Homo sapiens: one gene and its partner. The protein of the gene in region 2 interacts with the protein of the main gene of each other region in a pairwise test. Each region holds a gene or a part of one and is shown on either strand. Other genes may lie near its edges.

Region 1 (7,038 bases), on a different chromosome or scaffold from region 2:
TGCAGTGCTCTTGAGAATCAAGCGAGGTGGTGTCTGGAGCTAGCCACTCAGTGCTGTTATTTTTACAGTCGTGGTTTACCCAGGGGCTCTCCTCTGGGGGCTAGAAGATACTTGAGGCCCAGCTTCATGGGGAGCTCCCCTTTGCCCCAGACGCCATGTTGCAAACCCTTGAGAAGGATCCTGGACAGAGGCCCTTGCTTTTCATCTGGAATTCTGAGTGCTGCAACCTTGCAACTTTGGTCCAGTTAGAATTGGATCGGAAGCTAGTCAGGCAGCAGGCGAGCCCCAGTTACTCCCAGATAACCTCCTGCATTGCTGTGGTTTCTGGAGCTTTCTGTAGGGTGGGCAGTGGGAGCCAGGGTAGGTGGGGTAGGCCCGCCCCTGCGAGTGTCTTCGGCACCCTCCCTTCCACCCCGCCCTGCGCGCGGTGCTCTGCGCCGACAGCCCGCCAACCTCTTAGCCCCAGGCCCAGGCCCTGGTGGAGGGGAGAGCTGGGAGGGCTGAGCTGGTCCAGGTGGCAGAGCCACTCTTGGAGCCCCAGCTGGGGTGGGTCCAGGGCCTGTGCTCCTGATTCCCATCTGGAGTAGCCTCCCAGAGCTGCTTCTGGGCTGGTGGTGTGGCAGTGCCATCCTTCATGTATTTGGGTTCTCTCCACAGAGGGACCATCTGTGTTCTCTCCACCCCTGTCTTTGAAAACAAAGATGATACCACGCTGTACATCTTAGTCTGCAATCTGCCATCTTCACGTGACAGTCTCTCAAGATCTTTATATATGAGAGACATATTTTCCTTTTTAATATCTTCACTGTATCTCTTAGGAGATCTGTGATTTTTTTTTTCCCAATCCGCCATCATTTACTCAGAGTCAGCATTAAAAAAATTTAAAATTTGTGAGAGGACAACTATGTCTGATAAAGCATGTCATGGAAGGCTGGGCACAGCAGCTCACACCTGTAATCCCAGCACTTGGGGAGACCGAGGCAGGCAGATCATGAGGTCAAGAGATCGAGACCATCCTGGCCAACATGGTGAAACCCTGTCTCTACTAAAAATACAAAAATTATGGTGGCGGGTGCCTGTAGTTCCAGCTACTCTGGAGGCTGAGGCAGGAGAATCGCTTAAACCTGGGAGCCACTGCACTCCAGCCTGGCAGCAAAGCGAGACTCTGTCTCCAAAAACAAAAAGAAACAAAAAAGAAAAAAGCCTGTCATGGAATGGGCTCCTGCCCTGTCCCCGGCCCCTGCTTTTTTTTTTTTTTTTTTTTGAAAAACAGGAATATTAGTGTAGGGTTTGGGAATTAGGCTGTAATTTGTTCCTAAGGGGGCATGGGTTAAAGCAAGTTGAGAAATACTGGCTTGAGATGTTGGGCCAGGGAGTGCAGAAGCCAACACCGCTCTGCCCGGGTGTGCACCAGGGCTCAGTGCGTGCTCTGCCCGGGTCTGCACTGGGCCCTGCTGCGCCCTGGCCCTGGGGCCACTTGGACTTTGGCTGCCTCACTCTTTCATTACCCAAGTATCTACTGAGTATCCACCATGAGTTCTGGGGGCAGAACTGTGTTCAAAGCAGGTGGAAATCTCTGCCTCCGTGGGGTGGACATAGATGGGTTATGGGGACTCCAGTCTCTGAGTGGGTGGGGAGGGCAGCGTGCCTTTTGTAATTCCAGCTACCAAGCCTGGAGCAACTGCTGTTTTTCTGGAATCTGTTTTTTCAATCTGTGCCCCAGTTCCTCCTTCATAATGGGTGGGAGTAGGGATAGTTGATGATAGCAAGTGCTTCCCATTTGTTATTAGAGGCTGTTCCTTTCCTTCGACTCCCAGTTCCCCTCCCTTGGAGGCAGGCAGGGCTCCAGGATCATGACTTCTCTTCTGGAGATGTTTGTGCCTATGTGAGCATGTGTCTGCAGAAGTTCATTATTTTCTAACTTAGGAGCACAGAACTGTATACTGTTCTTCACCTTCCTTAATTTTGAAATTTTTTATAAAGGCGTGGTCTTCTTATGTTGTCTAGGCTGGTCTGGAATTCCTGGGCTCAAGCAGTCCTCCAGCCTCTGCCTCCTAAATTGCAGGGATTACATGAGTGAGCTACCTTGCCCATCCCTGCACCTTCCTTTTTCTCTTAAGAAGTCTCAGATCATCCCAAGTCAGCATACAGACCTGCCTCAATCTTTCCCCCAGCTGCAGAATGTCTCATTGCACAGATGCCTCACAGGCATTCTACCTCACGACAGCCTGTGTATTAAACACTGCTGTGATATTTCATCAAATCGAAGGCGCTGTCATTGGGGAGGCACCCTGTTTCATATAGTGCCAAGAAAAAGGCGTGCCCAGTTAAATCAAGACAGACCCCAACTGTGAGATTAATCTGCATTCCAGCAGTGTCAAAATGTGGAAGAGGGTGCGTTGTGGGATGGATGGAAATAGAAGTAGTTTCGCGTGGTACACCAGGAAACGAGACTGGGGAGGAATACAGCCCAGCAGGGTGTCCCGGCTTGGATTTTGAAGCCCAGTCCCAGCCACACTTGTTCCCTGCCTGACCTTGGGTAGGGGCCCCAGTGTCTCAGGAACACAGGAGCAGTGACACTTGCCCTGGGGCGGGGGCCATCCTGGAAGATGCTGTGAAGGGCTGGCTGCACTCCCTGTGGCTTATTTAAATCACTGGGATTTGCGTGATTACACTCTCTGAATTTTCTCATTCTTAGTGAACATTTTATTTTTCTTGTTGGTCATATGAGTATTTTCTAGATACAAGCAAAATACACGGGGGGTTCAAAATGCGTTGGGTTGAAACACCTAATTGCAGTGTGGTCAAAAATGGGGGATGTGGACAATTTGGTGTAATTCAGCCTAATATATTTTTCATTTTGGTCTCTGGTCATTTTCACTTATTAGACAGAACAGTTTGTAAGTATCCAAAGAAAATTATTTTGTTTTTTTTTTAGCTGATTGCAGTGGTATGATCATGGCTCACTGCAGCCTCCACCTCCTGGGCTCAAGCAGTTCTCCCACCTTAGCCCCCTGAGTAGCTGAGACCACAGGCATGTGCCCCCACACCTGGCTAATTTTTTATCTTTGGTCTCTACAAAGTGGGTATCCATGTTGCCTAGGCTGGTCTCAAACTTCCGGATGCAAGCCATCGTCCCGTCTCAGTCTCCCAAAGTGCCAGGATTGCAGGTGTGAGCCACCGAGCCCAGCTCAAAGACAGTTCTTTCTCAGCAAGTTCTAAACCATGAGTGACAGAACTAGTTTATTGTTCTTTATTTTATTATTATTATTATTATTATTATTATTATTATTATTTTATTATTATTTTGGGATGGAGTCTCGCACTGTTGTCCAGGCTGGAGTGCAGTGGCGCGATCTCGGCTCACTGCAACCTCCGCCTCCCGGGTTCAAATGATCCTCTTGCCTCAGCCTCCCGAGTAGCTGGGATTACAGGCGCCCGTCACCACGCCCGGCTAATTTTTTGTATTTTTAGTAGAGACTGGGTTTTACTATGTTGGCCAGGCTGGTCTCGAACTCCTGACCTCAAGTGATCCTCCACCTTGGCCTCCCAAAGTGCTGGGATTACAGGCGTGAGCCATCGCACCTGGCCTGTTTTTATTTTTTATTTTTGTTTTTTAAAAACTTTTTAAGAGATGGGTCTTGCTTTGTTACCTAGGCTGGTCTTGAACGCTTCGGCTCAAGCACTTGGTCCACCTTGGCCTCCCAAAATGCTGGGATTACAGGTGTGAGCCACAGTGCTTAGCCTCTAGTTAACTGTTCTTAAACCAGGCTCCCTTCTGCTGGGACCTACTTCTTGTCCACCAGCTTCTCTCCTCTACATCCCTGGGCTGCCAGGACCTCTGTCCCTGCCATGCAGACTCCCTGCTCCCAGTGGACTGTCCCCTCCAGGGAGTCCTGCGGGCCAGCTCTTGCCTTGCAGTGTCTTCAGCTCCTTTGGCTAATGAATGCTGCTTCTTACTCTTGGTTTAACTTTACAAAACATTGGTAACTTATAAACTTGAGCTTGTCATTTGTTCCGAAGAATTCACAGGAGCACTCTCTCTCCCTCATTCAAGGCTCAGGGTGGTGGCTCATTTTCAAGGGGCTGTGAAAAGAGAGGGTCACTCCTTTTTGATCATTTCCCTGCTGCCTGGCTTCAAATGGCCCTCAGGCCAGGTCACTTTAGGGAAATTGGTGATCGCTCTTGGTATTCCACTTTTTTTTTTTTTTTGAGACGGAGTCTCGCACTGTCACCAGGCTGGAGTGCAGTGGTGCGATCTCTGCTCACTGCACCCTCCGCCTCCCGGGTTCAAGCAATTCTCCTGCCTCAGCCTCCTGAGTAGCTGGGATTAGGCGAATGCCACCCCTGACTAATTTTTGTATTTTTAGTAGAGACGGGGTTTCACCATGTTGGCCAGGCTGGTCTCGAACTCCTGACCTTGTGATCCATCCGCCTCAGCCTCCCAAAGTGCTGGGATTATAGGCATGAGCCACTGCGCCTGGCGTGGAATTTCACTCAGGTCCCTTCAGCTCTCTCTGGTTCTGACAGATCTTGCCCAAATTCCCATGGTTATGTGGTCATTTGCTTGCCTGTTGCTGGGGGTGGCTGGGAGGTGGCACTCAGCTGTTCGACTCTGAGGCCCAGGACTCCTGGCTGCTGGGACTCACGTGTGTCCCTGCACAGGGAGGAGTGGATGCGGGCCATCCAGATGGTCGCCAACAGCCTCAAGCAGCGGGCCCCAGGCGAGGACCCCATGGACTACAAGTGTGGCTCCCCCAGTGACTCCTCCACGACTGAGGAGATGGAAGTGGCGGTCAGCAAGGCACGGGCTAAAGTGGTAAGTGCTGGGAGCAGGGGTGGGGCTGCCAGCCTGCGGTGCCCCCACCCCCAGTGCTGGCCTGCTCTCCTTGGTTTCCATAACACAGTTCAGGGGGCTCAGCTGAGAGACAAGGCTGCCCTGCAGGGTGGGGTGATTTCAGGTGGCAGGTGCCCTAGGGTGTGCTCCATGCCCGTAGGGGAGGGAGCAACCTTGGGTGGACCCACTGCAGGTTCGTCCTGGGAGTTGGTGAAGACCTGGCTACCCCCACGTCAGAGCCCAGCCCTCCCAAGGCCCTGTGCCTGCAGAGCCTGGTCTGAAGGCCGCTTCAGAACACACAGTTGCTGCCCAGAGCCTCCCTTCCTGCTCCAGCCTAAGCCGTTTGGCAACAGTGTCTTTTGGTTTTCCTCTTTCTTTTGTTAAAATTTCCTCCCACGGGCCATGAGCCAGGCGCTGACTGCCCCCACTCTCCCTGTCCCTGGCAGACCATGAATGACTTCGACTATCTCAAACTCCTTGGCAAGGGAACCTTTGGCAAAGTCATCCTGGTGCGGGAGAAGGCCACTGGCCGCTACTACGCCATGAAGATCCTGCGGAAGGAAGTCATCATTGCCAAGGTGCGTGCCCCGGGAATTGCGCTCGCGAGCCTCTGTGGGGGCTGCGGTCTGGAGCCTGACCCTGAGGCCTGGACGCTTACCCGCGCTTTCTGCTGCTGTGGGCTTATTTCCCCCACAAATTCCCCCTAGTCAGAAAAGGGGGAGCCTGAGGCCCAGAGAGGAGCAGCAGGCCTTGCTGCTGAGTCCCCACCTCCACCCTATGTTAGGGGCTGGGGGTGCCTGTGGAGAGAGAGAGCCTCGGGGCCCCACCCAGCAGGTACTGTCAAGGGAGGCTGGGGCCTGTTGGGGAGGACGTCGCTGTTGGGGAGTCCCGGGCTTTGCTCAGGGTATCCCAGGTGGAGGCCGGGCCAGGAGTGGAATTCTACTTTTTCCCTTATTTGAATTTTTTGTAGTGGAAGATTCCAAAGACATTCAAAAATTTAAAAAGAAAATAAATATTACGGACCCCCATGTAGCCATTGTCCAGTTTAACCAGTTATCAGCGTTTAGCCAGCCTTGTTTCCTTAGCTCTGCCTGTCCCTCTTGTTCTGGAATACTTTAAGGCCTGTCCTAGACAACACGTCACTTCACTCATCCATACTTGAACATGTGTCCTGACAGATGAAGACTGTAAAGAATATAATCATGTGGTGCTGCCATCAGAGCCAACCAAATTAGCTGTTCATTCCTGATGTGACGATTGGGCCTAAGGCAGCCTTCCTCAGCCTCAGCACTGTTAACGTTTTGGGACAGATGATTCTGCGCTGTCGGGGCAGCCCTGTGCATTCTAGGGTTTCAGCAGCACCCCTGGCTTCTACCCACTGAAGCCAATACTAGCTCCCCAAGTTGTGACAATCAAAAATGACTTTTGGGTTGGGCGCCACAGCTCACGCCTGTAATTCCAGCACTTTAGAAGGCTGAGGTGGGAGGATCGCTTGAGCCCAGGAGTTCGAGACCAGCCTGGGCAACAAAGCAAGACCCTGTCTCTGTAAAAATAAAAATAAATTAGCTGGGCATAGTGGCGTGCACCTGTAGTCCCAGCTGCTCAGGAGGCTGAAGTGGGAGGATCAGTGGAGCCTCAGAGGTTGAGGCTGTAGTGACCCATGTTCACACCACTGCACTCCAGCCTGGGCGACAGAGCCAGACCCCCAGCTAAAAAAAAAAAGGGAAAAAAAAAAAAAAGACTTCAGACATTCTCAGGTGTCCCCTGGGGATAAACTTGCCCCAGAGAGAGCCTGTGTTCACGTTGCTGCAGGTGGCTCCAGATTTTTGGAACCACTCCTGGTGGTTCTGCTGTACAGTCAGGTACCAAATTAGAACCTGAATTAGAGTCACCCAAAGGGCTTGTGAGACAGTGCTGGGCCCACCCCGAGTTTCTGACTCAGTGGGCCTGGGGGTAGGTCCCAGGAATTTGCATTGCTGCCAGTTCCCAGGCGGTGCTGAGGTGCTGTGTGGGGACCACACCAAGAAGCACTGTTTTTCCTTCTTTGGGCAAGAATGCTTTCTAGGTGGGACTTCCCACAGCCTGTGGTGGCACCTCGGGGCTCTCGTGATGTCTGTTTGTCTCCCTTGCAGGGACGTCACAGGTGTCTTGTCCCTAGCAGCCTGGTCCTTACATTGTGACATTCCTGCTGACTTTTCACC
Region 2 (7,038 bases):
ATGATTTTTGAAAATCAGATTACATCTATAAAAGATGAAAAGCAAACACTTAAAACAATCTAACGGGGGAACATAAAATAATAAAAAATCAAATGCAGATGGGATTTCACAAAGAGGAGATTTGAATCTTTTGGTCTAAATCAGCCAATATTTTAACATTAACTATAAATTATTAAAATATAGTTTGCTTATGCCCATCCTTAAAATGCAGAATCTTTGAGGAAAAATATAGGCATATCAGGAATACAGACTCTTGTAAAAAATTTAAAAAGTCAGTATCATCTCTCTTGTGGAGCTACCAGAACAGGTTTTTCAAACAGAAAAGGGGAACAAACGTGGGGAACAAACGTGGGGCGCTTGGCTATGTTAAGAATTCTTATCACTAGAATACTGCTTCGAGACGTTCATAGTACTTTCCAAAAGAAGCCACCCACCTCAAAGAGCCCTGCGCAGCCCCAGTGACCCATGAGTGTGGTAGCCGTCATTTTATTAGCCACTGTTGGCAATCATCAAAGTATTCACTCAGAGTGGGGAAATTACTTAATATCAGCGATATTAACGATTTCCATGTATTTAGCTTTGTGACACACAATGCACAAGGGTCTTCAAATGTTTGTTTTTTACACCAGTGGTAGAAAATTGTCATTCTTCGGATTCAACACACTGGTGGATGACACTTTAGTGAAGTGTGACTACCTAGAAGAGCAGGAAGGCAGCTCCTGATTCTGACTGGGCCAGCCTCTTCCAGAAGGTGACTCTTCTGTCAGGAGATCACGACCCTGGCAGGCCGGGCAAGCGCTCTGCCCTTTAAGCCACTGCTTAAAGCACTGAAAAGGAGAAAACAAAATCAGAAGATGCCTTCAGGACCATGAGGAAGCTTAGCTCCCCTGTGCTGCTGGGCTCCTTGGCAGGCGTGGCTCACTTGCCCTTGGTCTCTTGGGCCTGGAGCTGCCCAATACTCAGGGACACCAACACCCGCTCAGGCCAGAGTGTGGACAAAGCCCCAGCCGCAAACGATCCCACCTCAGGGTCAGATCCTGAGCGCTCTGGGCCTCCAACCTGGCCTCAGGGGGTGGTCTTGCCCTGATCCCCGGTTCCAGGCTCGGCTCTTCCACTTCAGCTGCGCCAAATTCCAGAGCCTGGCATTCTCGGCCCTATGACCCAATCACTCATTCTTAGCCCATCCCTTGGCCTGGCCTTGGCCCTTGGCTCTGGAACAGCCCTCCAGCCTGCACGCCACACTCCTGCTGCTGCTGCCCACACTGCAGAGGCTGTGGACAGTCAGCTAGCCCAAATATAAGACCCTGTACCCAAGGAGGCACACCACACCAGAGACTTGGCAAGTGGTCTCAATTCCTTTCAGTGAGCATGCTGTATTTATCCCGTTCCAAGGGATTAGCAAATCCCCATGGCAGAGACCTGATCTGTTCTAACCCAGCAGCAGGGGTGCACACAAATGCTCACGGTACCTAGAACACCATGATAGTTCACACACAGATCCCAGAACGGTACGAGCAGGACTGTCCCTGGGTCAGGCAGAAGGGACTCAGCTAGGTTTAGTTTTTCTCCTCTAAAATGTTAAACTGACTTCATATACTACACTAAGTCAAAAAAATGGTTTCACTGTTTCTCCATTTAGTCAAGTGTGTAAGAAATCACCTTTCAAGGAACTAATACTGCTTTGAATCTCAGCACTAACGAGTGGCTGGAGCTGCTGTTCCCCTCTCCCCACAAGGGATGGAAAGGACGGTCTCCAGAGCTGCCCTTCCTGCAGAGCTGGTGTGAGGACAGGGAGGCACTGAACACTGACACGGGAGGTTTGCAAAGAAAATAGTTTGAAAGCACAATAAATACTGATGACTAGAAAACAATTCCTTTCTTATTTTGAAAATATTTGAAGGTCCCAATGCATGCTGTAAGGATGGCCAAAAAGAGCTCTTACCCCTTTGTGATACTTGTGCCCACATTTGAGCACACGCACGTTTTTTGATTTGAACACCTCGTGGCATATTTCACAGGAACTTGCACCCAGTGCCTGTGGAAACAAACACACCTGAATAGTAAAGAATAACTACAGTTGTTTTTATGACACGAGTTCTTCCTTCAAGTGGCCTTCAAACATCTTCTGCCACAAAGGGTGGCAAATTATTCACAATTACAGCTAAACAGTCTGAGGAAACAACTTATTTTTTAATAGCATTTCTTAAGAAAAAATATAAAAATACAAAAAGAAAAGTATAAAGTTCTAATTTCCTCAGAGAAAAAACTGTTTTATGTGACCAGAAGATCCCCAGGTGAAGATTACCATACCTAAAGTACAGTATGGGATAATCACATGGCATGGTGTGAATTAATCATACATTTAATCATCTAACAGTTGAGGGTAGTAAATTCCAACACATCCACACAATGGGCTATTGTGTAGCCAAAAGGAAAATCATGACGGAAGCCCATAATCCCTGACATAGAAAGCTGGCCCCAACAGCCTGCTGAATGAAAGCAGCTAACAAGACAACATGTATCATATATAACTCACTTTTTAATAAAGGGGCTGCATGTATACATACATGCCTAGAAAAACAGTTAACAGTGGTTGCCTCAGGGTAAGGGAGATTTAATCTTTTTCTTTACTATTTTCTAGTTTCTATGAGCATGGATTACTTGTGCAAATCAAAACAAAACAAACGGATGGCTCATCCGGCAAACATCCATGGGCAGGGTTGGTGTCGGGTGCTGGACGCAGAGATGAATGGAGGGCTCTGGCCTCAGCGGCTCACAGTCTGGTGAGCATAGACAGTGCTTTCGATGTGAGAGCAGACCTGAGTGTCGCCTGGGACTCCAGGCACAGTTCTCCCTGCAGCTCACAGCACTTACCCTTACTGCACCATTAACTTCTACTCTAGCTCACTGCCTCTTAACTCTGAGCGCCTTGAAGGCACAAAATGAGTCCCATCTGGGTCTTTAGCAGCTGGCAGAAAACCTAGCTCAAACTCATGCTCTAAAAACCCCTGCTGAGGGAGTGGGCGAATGCAGGCAGCCCTGGCAGTGGGATCAAGTTCAGGGAGTGGCACTGGAGGCATCACCCCAAGGCTGAGAAGACCTTGAACTGCTGTTCAGGGTTTTGCTGTCTCTCCCAAGGCATGACTCGGCCCAGGAGGAGATGGGGCAGATGCTGCAGAAGGAGGGTTCATGCCCCTCCACTGCTGCCCATGACTCGAGGGTCAGGGAAGAAGAGGAAGTGCCAGACCGGGGAAGAGCCATTGAAGGCCTCTCCAATGCCCAGTGCAAAGCTCGGAGCCAGGTTTAGTTTGAAAAAAATATACACTTAACTTGACCGTTTTCTATTTCCTAGAAAAGATGGGCACAGTATATTTCTAACTAAAAGAAAAAAAGGACAACCACAATAAAAAAAAAAATGGAAAACAACCAAAACATTCAGCCCCTCAGAGAACATACAAAGTGTGACTAGCGTATTCAGTTTTGACTAATTCACATATCCATGCATTCAAGAGTTTAGAAAAATATATACCAAAGTGGTAATACTGATTACAGGGCGGGTTTTTAAATGCCCTTTTTATTTGTATTTTCTATTGTATGTAATACTTTGTAATTTGAAAATTAATACTTTTAATTTTAACAAACTATGGTTATCAAATTAGGTCCCAGTTTGAACACATATTTTTCTTTCTCATACAATCTGGTGAAGTTTCAGTAAGTCAGCTTTTATATCTTCGTTACTACAAACATCCATCATGAAGCAAAAACAGAACCCTCTTCTCCAGGCAATCACGGTCTATCTTGGGGTGGGTGTGGCCACACGACACATTGACACATCTGTGTAATTCCAAAGCCATGGTTACACAGAAGAAAATTATTCAAAAATGATTTCCCCAACTGTTCAAAATACCACACTGGATGTACAAAGTTCATGTACTTGACCATCTGCAGCAAAACAAGGGCAAGAGAGAGAAGGCTCAGATCCCCCACGATGGTCAGAGCCCTTGTCACTCATGTGCAGGGGCTTCTCTCCATGCTGGGCCCAAACGTATCACAGCAGACACCATGACCTCGGCCATTCACTGATTGCTCTAACTGGACACATTCAAGTACATTGAAATTCAGTTTCTAATGTTGGGATCAAATAAATTAGGTCTAGAAATGAATGGGGCTAAATCATGGATTAAAAATTTTGTTTGCTTCTTGTTTTTCATTAAAAAACAAAACTATACAGTTATACATACAATCCTCACAGGGACATCTTCTGCTTTCTGCCCCTTGGTTTTGGGTGATGGTGCAACAACCACCGAGGGTGAGCCCTGGGAGGACCTGGTCACGGGGGTGGCAGAGCTGGGCTCATAAGTCCTCTTGTCCTTTCCTGGGTTTGGCTGCGAAAATAACAGGGGTGGCGGGGAGGGGACAAGAGGGAAGCAACCAGTTATCCAACAACTTGACCATCTTCTGTCTTTAGTACATTGCTCTCTAGGTTTTGGTTTGAAGCTTTTTTTTTTTTTTAACAATTCTCATATTTTATAAATAAATAAGGATAAACTGGAACATCTAGATAAAATACCTTTTTCTTTTTCTGTTCATCTAGAATGTGTTCTGTCACTCTTTGGACAATTTCATCAATACTCAATCCTGAGAGTGAGTTCTTGTTTTTGCTTCGCACTTTTTTAATAAAACCAGCAAGCTCAGTGCTGAAAGGGAGAGTGAGTGATGAATGACAACAGAAAGTTCTCTACTGCTAAGAAATATTACATGCCAATATTAATCCAACAGCCCAACCCAAAGAAACAAAGACAAATGCACATAAAATTAATCTGAAGACCACTGATAACAACAATAACTATCTAAAAAGCATAACTTTTTTTTTTTTTTTGAGACAGTGTCTCACTCTGTTGCCCAGGCTGGAGGGCAGTGGCGCGATCCCTGCTCACTGCAACCTCTGCCTCTCAGGTTCAAGCGAGTTTTGCCATTTTTTTTTAAGAAGAGATGGGGTTTCACCATGTTGGTCAGGCTGGTCCCGAACTCCTGACCTCAGGTGATCCACCTGCCTCGGCCTGGCGTGAGCCACCATGCCTGCTGGCTAATCATATTTTAACTGCCCCATTGTTTACAAATTTCAATTTTGAAGCCTGTAATTAACACTGTCTCAGAAACTGAAATAATAGGGCACATGCCAAAGGTCATTCCTGAGCATAGAGTCCTTTGATCCGAGCTGCACTTCAGAGACACCGCCTCTACCTCATCATCTTTCACAGCTGAGACAAGAGGCAACTCTGTCCCCCTCGTAACAACCTGAACAGCGGAAACCAGAGGTGGAGGCAGAAACGCTACTGAAGAGCCTGCCATCATCCCAACTCTATTTACAGCTCTTGCTCACTCAGGTAAGGGCAGCTTTTTCCCACATTCACAAGGACCCCTTGTTAACATGTCCACATGCCCCATTCACTATGGAATTCCATCCAGTCTTCAACCTCACACTCTAACAAATCAGAGGTCTTATATAACAAGGTTTAAGTTGCTGCTGCCTTCTTTGCTATATATAATTTTGTCCCCCCAAATGATGCAAAATTATTGTTTTGCGTTCATTTATTGATACTATAACACTAGTTTTAGACAGTGCTATTGGTCTCATCAAAATCTTAGCAAATTGTCATGGGTTCTGATGAATATTACCCAGTGCTCAATGTTTTCAATTTACATATGCACATTAAAAAATTTATTTGAGGCTGGGTGTGGCGTCTCATGCCTGTAACCCCAGCACTTTGGGAGGCCAAGGCGGGTGAATCACTTGAGGTCAGAAGTTCGAGACCAGCCTGGCCAACATGGTGAAACCCCACCTGTACTAAAAATACAAAAATTAGCCAGGCTTAGTCATGCATGCCTATAATCCCAGCTTCTCAGGAGGCTGAGGCAGGAGAATCGCTTGAACTCGGGAGGGAGAGGTTGCAGGGAGCCGAGACTGTGCCACAGCACTCCAGCCTAGGCAACAGAGTGAGACTCTGTCTCAAAAAAAAAAAAAAAAAGAAAGAAAAAACCCACCAATTTATTTGAAAATACTTATCTCTATATTTACAAAAAGAAAGAAATGTAGCAACTGTCTTTCTGAGCAAAACAATTATGCAACCCTTTTCATGTTAACACCTAACTAGCCATGATTTTATCTAATCAGGAAACCTCAGTTCGATAAAGTATTAAACACAGTCACAGACATTTTCTGTTCATACCTGTTGTAACATGGGAATACCACTGACAGGTGCTCAATAATACTATTGAACGGCTTTTTTGGAGACTGGCTTGAACGCGCAGCACGTCCTGGAGGAACAGGCTGCTTCCGATCAGCCACAGGGCTTCGTTCTGACAGAGCTGCCTGGCCAGCCCGTTTTGGCCCTGTCAGCTGAGTGGCTTCAGGCTGACCAGGGGGTGGCCCTGGCAACAGCGCAGAAGGAGCCTCCCCTGGGGAATCACCAGCAGAGAACACACTAGGATCCCTGTGAAGTGCTGCGTGGTTTCCAGTCACGTCGCTTGCAGAAGTCACAAGCCCTTGGCCATCGTCGCCTGAAGACTCAGGGAGTAACTCGGGATGAACCTGTGAGGAACACACCACACCATGGATCACTTAGGGCTTCCCTTGAAGGATGAAACGCCCAAGGACAAAGGCCGATGAATAAATACAGTAACGCAGCGCAGAGGCTCCGTGCACAGGAAACCTGAATACCATGAATTAAATATTTTCGTTTTAAAAGAATTCTTGACAATAACTTGTTAGTTATTAGAACAAGAGTAGGAGGGCTCAGACTTCTAAATAATTATCTCTATAAGTCACTATTTTCTCTGTAAGATGAGACCATTTTGCCTGCCTACTGGCCCTCCTTCAGCCTCTACCTGGTTACACTTTTCCCCTTCTGAGCTAAACCATGTAGCTGACAGATGGAACATCATGGCCACCACACTCCCCAGAGCTGTCTCCATCCCAGGGGGCCGCCTCCTCTTCCCTGCCAGCTCTCCTGGCAGCTCTCAGGCCTCCGTCCACGC

The links. Proteins that work in one complex are often made in the same cells at the same time.
Region 1: the proteins of TTC3 (region 2) and AKT2 interact in binary tests that used the Homo sapiens proteins (3 or more experiments, as listed by UniProt).

Annotation. Positions count from the first base shown.
Region 1 is NC_000019.10:40,240,315-40,247,352, reverse strand, and holds part of AKT2 (RAC-beta serine/threonine-protein kinase), read left to right. Parts: intron 1-4,665; coding exon 4,666-4,819; intron 4,820-5,283; coding exon 5,284-5,415; intron 5,416-7,038. UniProt on the Homo sapiens protein: Serine/threonine kinase closely related to AKT1 and AKT3. All 3 enzymes, AKT1, AKT2 and AKT3, are collectively known as AKT kinase.
Region 2 is NC_000021.9:37,195,229-37,202,266, reverse strand, and holds part of TTC3 (E3 ubiquitin-protein ligase TTC3), read right to left. Parts: intron 6,593-7,038; coding exon 6,231-6,592; intron 4,698-6,230; coding exon 4,571-4,697; intron 4,386-4,570; coding exon 4,242-4,385; intron 2,036-4,241; coding exon 1,943-2,035; intron 828-1,942; coding exon 693-827; 3' UTR 1-692. UniProt on the Homo sapiens protein: E3 ubiquitin-protein ligase which catalyzes the formation of 'Lys-48'-polyubiquitin chains. Mediates the ubiquitination and subsequent degradation of phosphorylated Akt (AKT1, AKT2 and AKT3) in the nucleus.